Homo sapiens: one gene and its partners. The protein of the gene in region 4 interacts with the protein of the main gene of each other region in a pairwise test. Each region holds a gene or a part of one and is shown on either strand. Other genes may lie near its edges.

Evidence for each region. Proteins that work in one complex are often made in the same cells at the same time.
Region 1: the proteins of SLC30A8 (region 4) and TMEM50A interact in binary tests that used the Homo sapiens proteins (3 or more experiments, as listed by UniProt).
Region 2: the proteins of SLC30A8 (region 4) and PTPN9 interact in binary tests that used the Homo sapiens proteins (3 or more experiments, as listed by UniProt).
Region 3: the proteins of SLC30A8 (region 4) and BSND interact in binary tests that used the Homo sapiens proteins (3 or more experiments, as listed by UniProt).

The regions. Positions count from the first base shown.
Region 1 is NC_000001.11:25,348,334-25,352,461, forward strand, and holds part of TMEM50A (transmembrane protein 50A), read left to right. Parts: intron 1-3,292; coding exon 3,293-3,360; intron 3,361-4,128.
Region 2 is NC_000015.10:75,519,688-75,523,815, reverse strand, and holds part of PTPN9 (tyrosine-protein phosphatase non-receptor type 9), read left to right. Parts: intron 1-570; coding exon 571-695; intron 696-4,128. UniProt on the Homo sapiens protein: Protein-tyrosine phosphatase that could participate in the transfer of hydrophobic ligands or in functions of the Golgi apparatus.
Region 3 is NC_000001.11:54,997,558-55,002,360, forward strand, and holds the start of BSND (barttin), read left to right. Parts: upstream 1-1,375; 5' UTR 1,376-1,629; coding exon 1,630-1,806; intron 1,807-4,803.
Region 4 is NC_000008.11:117,151,252-117,156,009, forward strand, and holds part of SLC30A8 (proton-coupled zinc antiporter SLC30A8), read left to right. Parts: intron 1-1,692; coding exon 1,693-1,839; intron 1,840-4,758. UniProt on the Homo sapiens protein: Proton-coupled zinc ion antiporter mediating the entry of zinc into the lumen of pancreatic beta cell secretory granules, thereby regulating insulin secretion.

The DNA of each region.
Region 1 (4,128 bases), on a different chromosome or scaffold from region 4:
TGTGGCTTTAAAAATATTAATAAATGTTCTGTGTATTACTCTGTATTTTTTAATTTTAAAAATGTAGGGTAGGCCGGGCACGGTGGCTCACGCCTGTAATCCCAGCACTTTGGGAGGCCGAGGTGGAAGGATCTCGAGGTCAGGAGATCGAGACCATCCTGGCCAACATGATGAAGCCCCGTCTCTACTAAAATACAAAAAATTAGCTGGGTGTGGTGACACGCGCCTGTGGTCCTAGCTACTCAGGAGGCTGAGGCAGGGGAATCGCTTGAACCCGGGAGGTGGAGGTTGCAGTGAGCTGAGATTGTGCCACTGCACTCCAGCCTGGCGATAGAGCAAGACTCCATCTCAAAAAAAAAAAAAAGTAGGATATGCCAATAAGCAAAAACGAAGTTGCCTATAATCTCACCAAACTATAACATTTTGACAGATATTCTACCAGTGTTCTCTTCTGTTTTCTCTTTCTCTAACACACATCTATATGTTTTAAAAGTAATATTTAACTCTTCTCCACTTCCTTTCCTCTTCCTGGAAAAATTCAGTCCAAAAACTATTAGGTGAGGTCAAGCATGAGAGGCATCCTCTATAGAAAGACAAGTTGTGGTGGCCCAGAGCAGGCTGCTGGGCTCAGGCAGGGTGGGAAGGGGCAGCTCAGCATGGGCTCAGATCCTGAGCAGGGTGAGGAGGGGATCCATGCAGCGGAGCGTGGGATGGAAGAAGGCAGCCCTACATGGGATGCTGGAGTCTGAGCAGGGTGAAGAGGCTGTCCAGATGGGGCAGGAGAAGCAGTGTGGCAGCTCTGTCCGCTAAGAGTGCCCAGAACAGCTACACCCCAACACCAGGAGCACACCTATAGCCCCCAGTTATGGAGCATCATGTTGACAAATACCAGACGTTTCAGTAAAAAGATTATTTAACTAGTAACTTTTCTATAAATTGGAGAACATACATAAAAATAATCATAGCAGAGAACAAATAGAGATTGTTCATTCCAAAGTGTCCCTAATAGTGAAGACAGGATTGTGGTGGCTCACAGAGGGCTCTGAAGTTTATTCAGATGGCTCAGCAAGGAAAACGAGCTGAGAACCAGTAACCCAAGAACATTTATTTGTGTTTTACTTTTATATATGAAACCTGTTTTTAATGTATCTATTTTATATACAAAATAATTTAGTACTGTACAGAGATCACTGAAAATAATTGAGTATTTTGATCATTCTGAAACTTAGATTTGTATGAATAAATTAAGACATCATATTACTGTGAAAAAAACTAGGATTCCTATATTCACTTTTTTTTTTCATAGATACAAGGTCTTACTATGTTGCCCAGGCTGGTCTCAAAGTCCCGGGCTTAAGCAATCCTCCTACCTTGGCCTTCCAAAGTGCTGAGATTACTGGCACAAGCTACCAGGCCTGACCTAAACACATTTATTGAGCACCTACTATGTGCGAAGCCCCTAGCCTTGTGCTAGGCATTGAGAATGAAAATGAGAAACAAGACAGACAATGGCTCCTGTCCTCATGAAGCTTATATTCTAGTGTTAGACACACACAACTAAATGGGTATATATATCATAGGTATAATGTTTTGTAACTTTAACTTGATGTATTGTGAACGTTTTCCCATGACATTTGGAATGTTTCAAAGGATACTTCTAAAGAAAGCAAGCCTATCTCAATTTAGAGTGGTATGCTATGAAGAGTTAGTAAAACACCTTATGTTTAGAGCCTGTATCAAGGATTTAAAAAACAAGATTTTACCACTTGAATCTCTATTCGATAATATCTTCAGAGCAAAAAGTTATTGTATTGTTTGAAATATAATTATTTCTCCAAACATTTGATATCAGTACAAAATTACTACAAAAAAATTTATTCCAAAGCCAATTTTAAGAAATATTTGGATTATCCAGGGCCCATTTTCTCCCTCTGCCATTGCCATACATGAGTACATGTTATGTCTGATACATACAAATGGAATATCAGATAGAACCAAGCAAAATTATCTTTTTACCTGTTCCAATCTTAGCAAAAGAAAATTTTGAGAATTTTGTTCCCGATTTTTTTTTTAAGAGACGGAGTTTCACTCTTGTCGCCCAGGCTGAATCGCAGTGGCACGATCTGAGCTCACCACAACCTGTTTCCCGGGTTCAAGCAATTCTCCTGCCTCAGCCTCCCAAGTAGCTAGGATTACAGGCATGTGCCACCATGCCCAGCTAATTTTGTATTTTTAGTAGAGACGGGGTTTCTCTGTGTTGGTCAGGCTGGTCTTGAACTCCTCACCTCAGGTGATCCGCCCACCTTGGCCTCCCAAAGTGCTGGGATTATAGGCATGAACCACCACGCCCAGCCTCGTTCCCAAATTTTAACAATCGAGACTCACCTGAAAGACTTGTTAAAACTCAGATTTCTGGGCCCCATGCCCAGAGTGTCTGCTTTGCTAGGTTTGGGTTAGGGCCAAGAGAATTTTCTTGTCAAATAGGTTGCCAAGTAATGCTGATTCCGCTAGCCTGGGGCCCATGACCACTGCTCTAGAGAGTATCTGGCTGGGCGCAGTGGCTCACACCTGTAATCCCAGCACTTTGGGAGGCCGAGGCGGGCGGATCACAAGGTCAGGAGTTCGAGACCATCCTGGCTAACACGGTGAAACCCCATCTCTACTAAAAATACAAAAAAAATTAGCCGGGCATAGGTGGTGCATGCCTGTAGTCCCAACTACTCGGGAGGCTGAGGCAGGAGAATGGCGTAAAACCTGGGAGGCAGAGGTTGCAGTGAGCCGAGATCGTGCCACTACACTATAGCCTGGGAGACAGAGCGAGACTCCGTCTCAAAAAAAAAAAAAAAAAAGGAGTATCTGGTTGAAGAGACCAGTCATATGAACTCTTTACTCAAGAACTGAAGGCTTATGAGCCAGGTGTAGTGGCACTTTGGGAGGTCAAGGCAAGGAGGATCTCTTGAGGCCAGGAGTTTGAGACCAGCCTGAGCAACATAGCAAGACTTTGTCTCTACAAAAATTTTTAAAAATTAGCTGGGTGTGGTGGTGCACACCTGTAATCCCAGCTACTCAGGAGGCTGAAGTGGGAGGATCACTTGAGCCTGGGATTTCAAGGCTGCAGTAAGCCATGGTTGTGCCACTGCATTCTAGCTTGAGCAACAGAGTGAGACCCTGTATCTTTAAAAAAAAAAAAAAGACTTTCAGGCCTAACCTTACATTTGAGAAACTGTAGATTATTGTTTCTGGTAATTGGTGTCATGGACCCTGATTTCTTGGTTTTATTTTATTCATACAGGATTAATGCAGTATCGAATGGACAAGTCCGAGGTGATAGTTACAGTGAAGGTTGTCTGGGTCAAACAGGTAAATAGGTGCAAACAGCATCTTATTATACATGCTTAAATCCTTAAGATGAGTATTTCACATGGAAATACCACTTTTCTATTTGTTTTAATATATCTGTGAGTAACAGCTTATTATTTTGAATCTATTGTTTTATGTTTTGGGCTTGAAATTGGGAATTAATATATAACATTCTATTTGCCGTGCTTTATTGAGTGTAGGCAGTGTTTTTATTAAAATGTATTTATGCAAATTAAAGAGGCCCTATCAGAATTCATTTTAGGCAGTCATGACTCCATTTATTTATAGCAAATCTTCATAAACATGTTAATGTGATTTGAAAGTTGCCTGTCCTCCTCTGTTAACATAATTTTAATGCAACCTTCCTAAGTTCTAGTCACAGTAAATTTGAATTTATTTTGCTGCCTAACTTCCCTGAAAGTGAAATATGGTAGCTTGGAGATTCGTATGTCACTGAATATGAATTTTTTACTGTATGTCTGTGTTACTGTTTGAAAGTACTCTTGGAAGATCTGGGAGCGGCCGGGCACAGTGGCTCACGGCTGTAATCCCAGCACTTTGAGAGGCCAAGGCAGGCAGATCACAAGGTCAGGAGATCGAGATCATCCTGGCTAACACAGTGAAACCCCGTCTCTACTAAAAATACAAAAAATCAGCTGGGCGTGGTGGCGGGTGCCTGTAGTCCCAGCTACTCTGGAGGCTGAGGCAGGGGAATGGCATGAACCTGGGCGGGTGGAGCTTGCAGTGAGCCGAGATTGCGCCACTGCA
Region 2 (4,128 bases), on a different chromosome or scaffold from region 4:
TAATGATAATTGAATAATTGAATTATGGAAAATCAGTTGTACAGTAGACTTAGAAAAGTTTCTTCAGTTGGTCCATTAAGGTTAGTCATGGTCTTTGGGAGAGATATGCAATGTGTCAGACACCCATGCTTCCATATTTAACGCAAGCTCTCCACTTAGTTGAGACCTCAGCCTTTCAAGTAAACATACAATGGCACTTTTAAGGCAGAGGGTGGAAATCATGGTCCTGTTCCCTGGTTCTCTCCTGCTGCTTGTTTCTTTTGCCATTCTGCCAGGGAAGTTAGCTAGGAAGCCAGTGCACAGCCATCCTTTGATCTGTCTGTAGTTGAAGAGCAAAGAGAATGTGTTTTTTTTTTCTTACCACAGAAATATGGTCCAGGGAGTCCTGGGAGAATCAGACAAAGGATGATATTAACACTCTTCCCTTTGGACAGCAATTGGTGAAGTCAGGGAATTATTGTTAGCATCTGTTTTCTACATGTATCAAACCCTTATCCAGTATATAAGTCTTAGTAATTGCTGTGATTTTCTATTTGATTTTTTTAATGTTTCTTGTTTTATTTGCTTTAGAATGTTCGGGACCCAACAGGAGCCTCCATTGCCCTCTTTACTGCCAGGTTGCATCATCCCCACAAGTCAGTCCAACATGTGGTACTTCAGGCTCTGTTTTACTTGCTAGACAGAGCTGTGGATAGGTAAGCATTGAGATTATTTTTTAGGTATTCTACATGCAGGTAGGAAAGTGACAGTTTTTTACTTGATTAAATTCAGCAGTGCCTTCGCCATTCTCCTAGGATGTGCCCTGGGCAATGCTATGAATAGAAAACAATCCATGTCCTTTAGAACTCGGCATGTTTGCAGGCACTATCAAGATGGTGGGCGTTCTCTTTACCACCTTGGCTCTATGTCAGGAAAACAGAAGCTGAGAAAGTCAATTATCGGCAATCTTCAGTGTATGGAAAACTACTTATTGGAAAAGAATGAGGGGGAGATGACCTGTGCTGGTTCTTTTTGCTCATATCAGAACCTCTAAGGCCTCAGTTTCTTTGTCTGCATAACAGGAATAATGCCGTTTAGTTCAGAGGATTTTGAGACTCAACATTCAGGGGAGGGCTGGGTGCAGTGGCTCACACCTGTAATCCCAGCACTTTGGGAGGCTGAAGCAGGTGGATTGCTTGAAGCCAGGAGTTGAGACCAGCCTGGACAACATGGTGAAACCCTGTCTCTGATAAAAAATACAAAAAATTAGCTGGGTGTGGTAGCGTGCACCTTTAGTCCCAGCTTCTTGGGGGAGGTGGGGGAGGTTGCTGAGGTGGGAGGATCACTTGAGCCCAGAATGGTGAAGCTGTAGTGAGCCATGATCACGCCACTGCATTCCAGCCTGGGTGACACAGCAAGACCTGTCTCAAAAAAAACCCCACAAAAAAGCCCACACAAAACAAACAACAACAACAAAAAAACATTCAGGGAGAAGCCCAGAAGTATAAAGTTAAGCAAAAACCATCCTTAATAAAAAGAGGTGCATAAGCATAAAGAACCAGCTCAGGTCATCACTCTCTTCCTGCTAAGGTAATTGGTATTGTTACAATTCAATTGACAATTAAACTCAAGCCCCAAGAAGTTTTTTACAGTCATCATATGTTAGTCCAGCTGGTTCTAAGATCCTGGTTTCTTCACTCTTGGGCAGAGTTATTTCTGTCCTCCCATGCTGTTGTTCTGCTATTCCTTTTTCCCTGGTGCTTGTAATTTACAGTTTCTTACTGCTCTCGACATCTTTGGCTGGTCCTCCGGATTAGAAGTGCTATATTGAGGCCAGGCGCATTGATTCATGCCTGTAATCCTAGCACTTTGGTTGGCTGAGATGGGCAGATTGTCTGAGCCCGGGAGTTTGAGACCAGCCCTGGGCAACATGATGAATCCACTCGCTTCTTGAGGGCAGGAAACTTTCTTTTTAACATCCGAATCTCTGTAGGTTGAGAGAGAATGGTATCGTGAACATCCACATATCCATCATCCGTCTTCTTCAAAGTGATCTGTAACAGTCTTGTTTCATTGGTAGCCCCTCATGGATCTCCTATCCTCAGTTTCTTTCTTTTTTGTTTTTTGAGACTAGGGCTTGGTTTGTCACCCAGGCTGGAGTGCAGTAGCATGATTGTAGCTCACTGCAGTCTTGAACTCCTGGACTTAAGCAATCCTCCCATCTCGGCCTCCCAAAATGCTGGGATTACAAGCATAAGCCATTGCATCTGGCTTCTCCGTTTTTTTAAAACCAATGTCAGGGACTGTATTTTAAACTTCTTGGTGTTTTCTGTAACATGTAGCTCAAGAATTAAAAAAATATTTTTTTTATTTTTTTTTTCCTTTGAGACGGAGTCTCGGTCTGTCCCCCAGGCTGGAGTGCAGTGGCGCTATCTCAGCTCGCTGCAAGCTCCGACTCCCGGGTTCGTGCCATTCTCCTGCCTCAGCCTCCCGAGTAGCTGGGACTACAGGCGCCTGCCACCACGCCCGTTTTTTTTTTTTTTTTTTGTATTTTTAGTAGAGATGGGGTTTCACCTTGTTAGCCAGGATGGTCTCGATCACCTGAGCTCGTGATCCACCCACCTCAGCCTCCCAAAGTGTTGGGATTACAGGCGTGAGCCACCGTGCCCGGCCCATTGTAAATCTTAAACTGGGTGCAGTGGCTCATGCCTGTAATCCCAACACTTTGGGAGGCCAGGTGAGAGGATCGCTTGAGCCCAGAAGTTCGAGACCAGCCTGGGCAACATAGCAAGGCCTCGTCTCTACAAAAAGTTTAAAAATTAGGCAGCCAGGCATGGTGGTATTTGCCTGTAGTCCCAGACACTCACGGAAGGCTGAACTGGGAGGATCACCTGAGCCCTGGGAGGATCACCTGAGCCCTGGGAGGATCATCTGAGCCCTGGGAGGTCGAGGCTACAGTGCGCCATGATTGTGCCACTGCACTACAGCATGGGCAACAGAGTAAAATGCTGTCTTAAAAATATATATATTCTGGTGGCTCACGCGTGTAGTCCCAGCACTTTGGGAGTCCAAGGGGGTGGATCTCCTGAGGTCGGGAGTTTGAGACCAGCCTGGCCAACATGGTGAAACCCCGTCTCTAGTAAAAATACAAAAAATTAGCCAGGCGTGGTGGTGGGTGCCTGTAATCCTAGCTACTCGAGAGGCTGAGGCAGGAGAATCACTTGAACTTGGGCGGAGGTTGCAGTGAGCAGAGATCGCACTATTGCACTTCAGCCTGGGCAACAAAAGCGAACTCTGTCTCAAAAAAAAAAAAGTATATGTATATATATACACACATATATAAACACACACACATCTATCTATCTATCTATCTATCTATCTATCTATCTATCTATCTATTCTATACCCTAAAGTGTGAAAATCTTACTGCATTCATGTTTTATGTGCCTTCACAGGATGAGCACTTTGATCTGGGAATATAGAACCTGGATCATTCATTATGCATCCAAGCTTCTTTTTTTTTAAATTCTCTTTGCCCCCTCACTGACTTGTTTTTGTTTTAGTCCCCTGCCACAACCTGGAGTCATGAGGGGAAAGCCCATAATTTGAATTTGACCCTTGAGGAGCTCATGGAGAAATAGAAAGTATCTAGATCTGGATAGCCTATTCAATAATTGTGCCACACATTTTCTTTGTTTCTTTTTATTTAAGAGACAGGGTCTCACTTTTGCTCGGGCTGAAGTGCAGTTGCATCATCATAACTCACAGCAGCCTCAACTCCTGGGCTCAAATGATCCTCCTGCCTCTGTCTCCCAAGGAGCTGGGACCACAGGCACGTACTAATAAACCCGTCCAATTTTAAAATTTTTTTGTAGAGGCGGAGTTTCACTCTGTTGACCAGGCTGGTCTCGAACTTCTGGCCTCAAGCAGTCTTCACATCTCAGTCTCCCAAAGTGCTGAGATTACAGGTGTGAGTCACTGGACCTGTCCTGTGCCACACATTTTAACAGCATCTTGGACCTTTGTGGATCATAGTCTCTCTGGGGTTGTGAAAAAGGAGTCAAGGGCAGGGCGCAGTGACTCACACCTGTAATCCCAGCACTTTGGGAGGCCGAGGGGGGCAGATCACTTGAGGTCAGGAGTTTGAGA
Region 3 (4,803 bases), on a different chromosome or scaffold from region 4:
GAACCAGACCTGGACATGACCTGATAACTCAGCCCTTTCCTGCCCCTCAGCCATCGCTCAGCCAGGGCCCCTGAGCTCCCTCCAGGACCTCCTCTGCGAACTGTCAAGTGCACCTGGACTCTGAGGGCTGGCGATGGTGGGTGTGAGGAAGGAGAAACCCCTGTTGGAAAAAGGGCCTATGAGAAGGACGTCTAGTTAGAGGGGCAGCTGTGAGCACAGGTGTGGGGTTAGGGAACAAGGGCAGCCCTGCTGGCAGGAGGGGAGAAGGTGATGACCGCCAACAGGAAATCCCCAAGCCCAGCAAGTCAGGGAGCCCATTGAAAGCCTTTTATCCTGCATCGGCGATTTAACCCCATGTAAACGCCAAGTGAACATTCTCTTGTAGAGACCGATGGTCCTCATTTTCCTGTAATCCTGTAAAGGAATCTGATTTCTTCCATCAGCCTGTCCCTAGGACTAAAATGCCTCATTAGTGTTATTCTTAGGAAGGCATCTTCCTAGATCAGGCTGCAAGGAAATGGAGGAAGTGACTGTCAGTCACTCACACCCTGCAGGGGCACTAATTCCGAGAGCCTTAGGGGTGGGTGGGGAGCAGTTCATTGAAAGCCCAACTGGGTGGTGCATAGCGTGTGAATGTGAAGGGGATGGAGGAACCCAAGGAGGCCAGGCCTGGAGACAGCACCAAATCTGGGAGGTACATTATTATTCCCATTTTACAGAGGAGGAAACTGAGGTAACCTGATCATGACCACACTGCCCCACAGTAGAGGAGCCAGAATCCAAACCCAGGCAGCCTGCCTTGCCACCAGAGCCACGCTTTTCACCCTCAAGCTGCAGTTAAGAAGTATCACGCCGTGGCTAGGCCCACGGCCTCTGGCTTCACATCCCACTAGCTCTGCCATCTTTAGCTGTGTGACCTTGGGCAAGTTACTTGTCTGTGCCCGAGGGTCCTCTGTAAAGTGGGGATAGTAGTAGCTGCTTCACTGGGTTCCCTTCAATGAGTTAATAGCTGTAACATGTTTAGAATGGTGCCCTGCACATAGTCACCAGCCAGTACATATGGGCCATTATTCCTGAACCCTGGATAGGCACATGTCCTTGAAGAGTGTAGAATTCTTCAGGATTCTGAAATGCCAGCCTGTGGGATCCTGGAATCCTCCAATAGCATTCTAACAGCTCTCAGCTGCAGAACTGTACCCTGTTTTCTAGAGCTGGAAGGTGTGAGGCTGCCTGTCCACCCAGCTCAACCCCACAGTAGGCAAATGAGGTGATGTCAAAGCCTTGGCTGGGGCCCAGCCCCGGTAACCTCCCACTCTCCCTCCCCTGTGTGCTCCCTCGCTCAGATTCACACACACACTCCAGGCCAGCCGGGCCCAGAGGGAAGGTGAGAGGGCAAGGAGTAAAGGTGGCTGGGTGTGGGTCCGTTGAAGCGAGCCGCCTCCAGCCCTGTTGAACTGGTGGGCCCAGGGACTGGAGCGGGATTGAAAGGGATCTTGCTCTCCCTTGAAGCCTTGAGTTGCAGCGATTTCAGTGTCTTCTCTCCCTGTGTAAGCCTGTCTCGGTGTTTAGGCTGAACTACAGCCACCCCCTCTCCCGGGGGTGTGCAGGCCAGGGACTGGCCAGGCAGCCATGGCTGACGAGAAGACCTTCCGGATCGGCTTCATTGTGCTGGGGCTTTTCCTGCTGGCCCTCGGTACGTTCCTCATGAGCCATGATCGGCCCCAGGTCTACGGCACCTTCTATGCCATGGGCAGCGTCATGGTGATCGGGGGCATCATCTGGAGCATGTGCCAGTGCTACCCCAAGGTAGGTGGTAGTGGGGCTGGGTGGGGCCAGGTCAGCTGGGGCCAGGAGGGCTGGACACTGTGCCTGTATGCCATGCCTCACCCCCTATCCTTTAGTTGTCTTTTCATTCTTCTCATTTTGACTCGGTCTTCTCTCTGCTCTCCTGAGCGTCTGTCCCATCCATCCATCCATCCATCCATCCATCCATCCATCCATCCCTTAGCCTAAGGGTTGATCAGAAGGCCCCTGGATCTGGAGCCCTGAGCCGGAAGCTATGGTATAGACACAGCAAACACAACACACCATGTGCTTGAAACAAAAGCTAATGAGCGCTGACCCCCTGCCAGGCACTCCTGCGTTCAGGGTGCAGTTCAGCCCTCATCCTAAGCCTTTTGGTGCTTTCTGTAGTTCCACCTTCTGAGCCTTTCTGAGGTCCAGAAAGAGAGGCTGCACAGCTAACGAGCAAGGTTTGGAGCTCAGATGCGTGTGACTTACACGTCACCCTTCACCTTGGGTCTTCTACCTCTGGGTCCCAGAGCGACTGAGAGCTCCAGGGTAGGTCAGGTCTAACCTTGGTGGCATGCACTGGGCAGTATCCTTTAGAGTCTTCATGTATTCTCAGCCTTATGTGTAATTTAGTGATGGGAAGAGCACTGGTTTGGGAGTCCTGAGTTCTAGTTCAAGTCCTGTTCCAAACTCTCTATGACCTTTGTCTTTCTGAGCCTCATTTTTTTCATCTGCAAATGAGATCCCTGCCCCTATTTTCCACAGAGCTTCACAGGGTCATTATAAAGATCAGAGAAGAGATAAGATATAGGAATATTTTGTAAACTGTAAGGTGTTATTTATAGATGAAGGGCTACCACTGTTACCCATACTGATCCTCCCAACAGCTCTGTGGAATGGAAATGCCAGGAGTTGCGAATCTTCAATGCCTAGAGAGGCTGGGTGACTTCCAAGGTCACACAGCTGGTCAGGTACAGACCCAGGGAGAAAAGGAGGGAAATAGGGACTCTAACTTGGGCTCTGTCTCTTACTGCCTGGGAGACTTTGCTCAAGCCCCTTTCCTCTCTGAGCCTCAGTTTCCTCATTTGTACACTGTGTGAGTTAGGAGGGGGGGGTGGGAAAGGGGGTATATCTGGGGGCCCTGCTGGACCTAATATCTAGGGCTCCAGGTCCAGGCAGTCCTCAGCAACCCCCACACCTCCTCTCCTCCCACCTGGGTGGCTGTGCTCAGGGTTTCAGGGAAGAAGGGGGATGGCTCCCTGGGGCCTGGGCCGGCTCTCCCCAGCCCTGCCCCCTCCACGGGCCAACCCTGGGCTGTCATTCTGTTCAGTGCTGGAGCGGTCTGGGCTGGTTTGTAGTCATTTAGCAGGCAGTTTACAGTCAACTTGCCTCTGTCTGTGCAATTCCTTGAGCAGAGGTCACTGGGAGAAGTCCTTGGGGCCAAAGCCACTCATGTCACCACTGCTATTATAATCCTTCTCCCAGTGAGGAGGCTGGACCCTGGGGGACAGCAGAGGGATGGCAGAGGTGTGGAGAGGAGCATCCTTCCTGCCCCCGCTCTTAAATAGAGCTGGCTCTGGGATGGTTGGTAGGCTGATGGGAGTGACGGTAGAGGGGAGGGGAGGGGAGGAGGGAATATTGCTGGGTATTAATGAGTAACTGTTGATAGATTCATGGGTTCACGTGCTGTGGAGGCAGCGTGGTGGGCTGAAAATGGCACATGTTGTGGCAACCTCCAGGCCCAGATTCAAATCCCTGCTCCTTCATGTCCCACTTCTGTGACCTTGGCAGAAAGAGTCCCTCCCCCTCAGCTCTGAGCCTTGTACGGCTGATTGGGAGAACACAGTGGGATCGTGTGTGTGTGTGTGTGTGTGTGTGTGTGTGTGTGTGTGTGTGTTGGGGGAGACCTGGCATCACACCTGCCATGGAACATATGTGAAGGCATTGTTCTTAGGATTGAGGATTGGTATTTGCGGCACTGGGTGGGCCTCTGCATGAGTGCAGGTGTGTGTGAGTGTGTGTTTCAGAGATGCAGGCTGGTAGAGCCAGCACAAATTGACTCCAATAAGGGAAGGGAGGAAAGCACCTTATAAACCAGGGAGACACTCTAGAGGCGAAGCTCCCTGGATCCTGCTTGGTCTCATTGGTGCCTGGGCCAACGCTGCCTGCAGTGCTCCTGCCTGTCCTCCCCTCAGCCTCCTCCCCGTGGCTCTCTGTGCCAGACCTATGGAAAGTTTTGATAAATGGGGAGATATAAATATAAGGGAATAGAATTAGCTAATTAGGATATAGGGGTGAGGGGTAGCCAATACCAACATGCATTAAGCTGTCCATGTCTTTTAGGGGCTAGAGGTCTAGTGGGAGAGGCTATTTGCTGCCTGATGGGGAGGAAACAGGCTTCACAGAGAAGGTGAGCTGGGCTTTGTAGGTGAGATAAGAGTTCACCAAGCAGAGAAGATGGGGAAAGACATTCCAGGCAGAAGAGTAGCATGATCAAAGCAATGTGGTAAAAGAATAAGGCAAGTGGGCCATTGTGGCTACGAGAGGCAGAGGGGAGGAAGGTAAAGGTAGCGAGGGAGTGGGGCTCAACTCTTCAGGGCCTGGGATGCCATGGTAAGGAATTTGGAGCTTGTCCTTTAGTTAATGGGACACGACCAGCTTTGCAGTTTGAGAAAGACATCCAGAAGAAGGAAGGTCTGGGGGCAGCCATACCAGTGGGGAGGCTTCTTCTCTGGTCTTGGTGAGAGCTGACAGTCATCTGGAATAATGCAGAATTCAAACACAAAGCTGTAGGAACTAAGGTGACATTTACAGTTCACTTCACATAGAGTACCCGTTGTGGCTAGGCATAGCACCAGCACTTCCACCCAGGTTATCTTATTGAATTTCTGAAGTAGACCTGGTCAGATTTGGTGGTCAGCTGGGCCTCAGGCATGAGAGAGGAGAAGGGATCAGGGCAAATCTAGTGGATGGGACAGTTGGAGGTGCTGAGCCCATTAGTGAAGATGGGGC
Region 4 (4,758 bases):
TTGTCTCTGGTACAGTGAGTGTTAAACAAGGAGATCACTGAAGAGAGGCTGTTATTTGTTTATCTTTGTATACCCAATCCCTGGTACCATGCACAGTAAGGGCTCAATAAATATTGGCTGGATAATTGAATTAATTGTCAGTAATACTCCATGCTTTCAGAAGCAAATGCAAGATCAGTCACAAACTACCTCTTGCAAGCAGTTTGCTCTATGCATCAGTGACTGCCCGCAGTTTTCTGGATGGCTCTTATAAGTAGCTCTGAAGGTTGCAAAATGGTTCTCAGTTTCCAAGCCTCCATAGTAACATGCTTATTCCAAAGCAAGCCCTTTTTCTTTCTCAGGTGCCTCCTGCCTCAGCTGAGACTGTTGAAGAGAGTTTATAAAACTGACTTCATTTCCTTGATTTAGACTATATTTCAGCCCAGCACATAGAATCGTCATCACTCATTGCTGTGATTGCAGCGTACTGCTTATCTGCATGGAGTTATTCTCTGGGCAAGAAATAATGCCTTATTAACACAGTTTTATCATCAGGACCAAGTTTGGCAGATAGAGCAACATTAGAGGATAATTGGAAGGACAGCTGATTTGTTAGCAAAATGTTGCTTTTTGGGTAATGAATCATTCTGATTTTTGCAGTGACTGTTCAGTAACAAGCTTGAAGATTACTTTGCTTCAGCCCATTAAACCTTGACAAACCAGTTATTAACTACGGCTAGAGCCAATGGCCTGTGGGGATTATTGCAATTATGAGCCATCTATGTAATTTTTAAAAATTAGGCGAGACAAGGTGAGTCTGATGATGGCGGGGCTGATGGCTGACAGTCTCTGCTATTTTGTAGTACACAAGGCAATAAACAGCTGTAGGGAGAACTAATCAGTCAGCAAAAGCCCTTTGCTGGGAAGATGTAGTAAGAGCAATAAAGGTTATTGCTCTCAAACAACAAACCATGTCTGGGAAGGAAAGGGCAAGGTTTTTCTTTAACTTCTATTTTGGAGGCTGGAGGTCTTTTCTCAAAGGAGGATTAGAGGGAAGTAGAGGGAGCACATCAAATAAAGGGAAAAGCCAGGCAGGACTCTCATGGCTTACATTGCATCCCTATGCTTTATTGGATTGTAGCACTGAGGACGCCCATTGGAAGGTACCTGCCCTTTCTCCTTTCTGCTCCCTGTTATTTCTTACAGGGATTTCAAGCTCAGGTGGATAATATATATTAATAGAGAAAAAGGAAAGGGTAAAGATGCTGATTAAATTATAAGTCAAATAAAAACACATCTGTGGGCCAGATCGCAACATCTAGTTTATAAACAAAAGTCCATGTCCTCAGTCTGGATTATGAGACTCTTTGAATCTGACCCGCACTGCTTCAGCCTGATTCTCTTGTATTCTCCTCTTTTGAATCCTTATACCCAGTCTAATTAAGGTGTTCTCCAGATGTGCCTGCCCCACACTTTCTAGTCTCTATGTCTTTTCTACCCCAGGAATGGCTTCTCCTTTGAAATTGATTTCTACATGTTCAAATCATATCCCCTCTCTGAGTCGCAGAAGGGGTGAATTAAATCAACTTTAAGATCTCTTTTTCCTCTAAAGTTTTGTGAGTCTGTGGCATTTTCACCCATGATGGTTAGCATGTCTGTGAATCTAGCTGCATTCTGGGACCTTAACACAGTGTACTATTTTGCATTCTCTAGGTGGGCACATTGCTGGGAGTCTTGCTGTTGTCACAGATGCTGCCCACCTCTTAATTGACCTGACCAGTTTCCTGCTCAGTCTCTTCTCCCTGTGGTTGTCATCGAAGCCTCCCTCTAAGCGGCTGACATTTGGATGGCACCGAGCAGGTACGGTTCATAGAGTGAGCAATAACAGCAGGCTGGTGCTGCAAAGTCAAACCAAGGGTAAAAGTGGAAGACACGAAGCAAAGCCTTGTTGGAAAGTCCTTAGAGACACATTTCTGATGCACAGGATAAAACAAATGTGTATGTGGGAATGTGTGTTTTCAATATTAATTCAGATAACAGACAGATTAATGGTGCTATCTCTAGTCCTCTGGGACAACAGGAACACGTGTATCACTTCAGCAACTGCCCCAGCCTCAGGGACTCTGTGTATGGTGACAGACATAACGCAATTCATTAAATTACTCTGCATCCCTGGAAGAGAGGATAGGAGTAAAGCTTCTGCCATATTGCAAAATGAGGCACAGAGCACCCAAGAGAGTTATAGAGATTGAAGAACTTCTTATAGAGGATTCAGGAATAGAATATAGGCTTTCCTGCTCACACACAGCATTTAGCCATTCAGCCATTGGTCCAATTGAATATCTTGCTCGCTCAATCAACAATAATGCAAAAAAGGAGGAGGAGAAGGAAGAGGAGAAGATGAAAGTTTACTTTTTCTCCTTTCTTGCGCTGGTTCCTTCACTGAATAACTGCTTACTCTTGTATAGGCAGTAGCCAAGGTCATGATAAGGGGTGTGTGTGTGTGTGTGTGTGTGTGTGTGTGTATTCATTCTTTATTGCTCAGTTGACTGTTGTAACAGGAGGAAAGCAAACACGTGCTGAAACATGTGCCTGAGCCTTGCCTGCCATTTATTAAATGTGGTTCACGTGTGCTTCCTTAAATAATTTCACAATAGACAAATGAATCCACTCTGATTAAGAAAGGGAGAGAAGAAGTCTAGTGCAAATTCCAGCCTTCTCAACTCATAATTATAGGGATTTCAAATAACATGTATGCACTAAAACAGACATAAATAACTTAACCAAGTAGCATAAACAACTTGGAGGTCTCTAAATTTGGTATATAACACATTTGACTGTATGCTTTTTTAAATTTTAATTTTAATTTTAATAAGTTCTGGGGTACATGTGCAGGATGTGTAGGTTTGTTACATAGGTCAACGTGTGCCGTCATGGTTTGCTGCACCTATCAACCCATCATCTAGGTATTGATAAGGGTTTTTACTTTGACTCATTTTTACAGTCCCTCCCTAACCCACCCCCACAACCCCCACACTCTGCAACTTCAATTCTTCTCCTCTGTGTTATTCCTTCTATCAGCTGGAGGAGGTTCCGGCTGAATATTTTGTGCAAATCATGTGAACAAATAGCCACAATTCCACATTTTCACACTGGTTGAGAACATCCATGTAGAGGAAATTGGAGAGCTGAGCAAGGGTGGCCAGCCTTCACTGAAAGGGCTGCTAGACACATATCACAGCTTATAGACTGATAACTGTGGACTGCGGCTTTTCAAGTTTAGAATGGCAGGAAGTCCTAATTTCATACTAAACAAACACTTGATCATCGCAGGTGTTTTGACTTGCTTCCCTTTAACATTCAGGAGATGAGGCAATAAACAGCAGTAAAGAGAGTTTGTGACAACGTGATCTGAGAATGTTTTTGCTGGTGCTTGAACAGCGCTACACTTGGAAAACATGGACCTGTAGCTAAGCACCCATTATTTGTCTGTGTAAAGTTTTACATGTACTTGACCCTTTCTGATACCATTTGTCAAAGCAGTTTTGTAAACCTAGGATGATTTGAAAATGTAGGGTGAACTCAGAATTTAGATCTCTGCTTGTACTTTGGCATCGTGGCCATGGAAGACCCTGAGCTATTAATAGAACTCTCTGCTGCGAGGGCAATATTCTGTAATATACAGTAAAATGTAGCTATTGAGCACTTTAAATGCAGCTAGTGCTACTGAAGAACCAGATTTTAAAATTTACTTAATTTCATTTTAAGCAGCCATGCATGATTGGTGGCTACCATATTAAACAGCACCTCTATAGATACAGAGGTGAGTCCAACACATTCATACGCAACACACCCATAATCTGGCCAGCCCAATGAGCCCAGCTAAGCTAACTTATTTCTTTTTTAAGCAATCATTGTAACATTTACCAATGATCCTCATGTGCCTCCTGTTCTAACTAGTTACTTTTGGATTTCTGACTCTTTGTTTTGTCTTAAGATCTGACTCCTGACTCTTGCTCTTGGTATTGAGCTTTACCTCGCCAGCTCTTTTCCCACTGTGCTTCCTAATCATGGGTTTTGAGTTAGACACACTCCACTTTCATACCCTGTTTTGGATTTTCATGGATAGGAAGCACACTACCTGACATCCACAGACTCAACCTCCATTTCCGGCTAACCAGAAATTCTTGGGCTTGGTCCTCATAAACTTCTGCAAAGGGGAGTCGTAAGTAGCCTGAGTAGACTAATAAAATAACAATTTCTTGAGTGTTTGCTATATGTTATATTAGGTTCCTAGGGCTGCCTTAATAATGTACTACAAATTGGGTACAGTATTTTGGGGGGTACATTATTAATTTTCATAACAAATTATGAAGGTTGTCTATGAATGAGGTCGGGGAAATAATTGCCATACACTGGGTAATAATATATTACATTACTTGGTTTTAAATACATTTCTGTTTAAACAACAGACATTTATTGTCTCACAGTTATGAGAAACAGAAGTCTGCAATCGGGCGTCAGTGGGGTTGGTTCCTTCTGAGGTCTGTGAGGGGAAGTCAGTTCCAGGCCTCTCTCTTAGCTTCTGGTGGTTTTCTGGGAAACTTTGTCATTCCTTAGCTCATAGAGCTCTGCTTTCATGTTTACATGGCATTTTCCCAATTTGCATGTCTATGTCCAGGTTTCCACTTTAAACAAGGACACCAGCCATATTGGGCCCATCCTACTCCAATGTGACCTCATCTTAACTAACTTAATCTGCAGTGACCCTATTTCCAA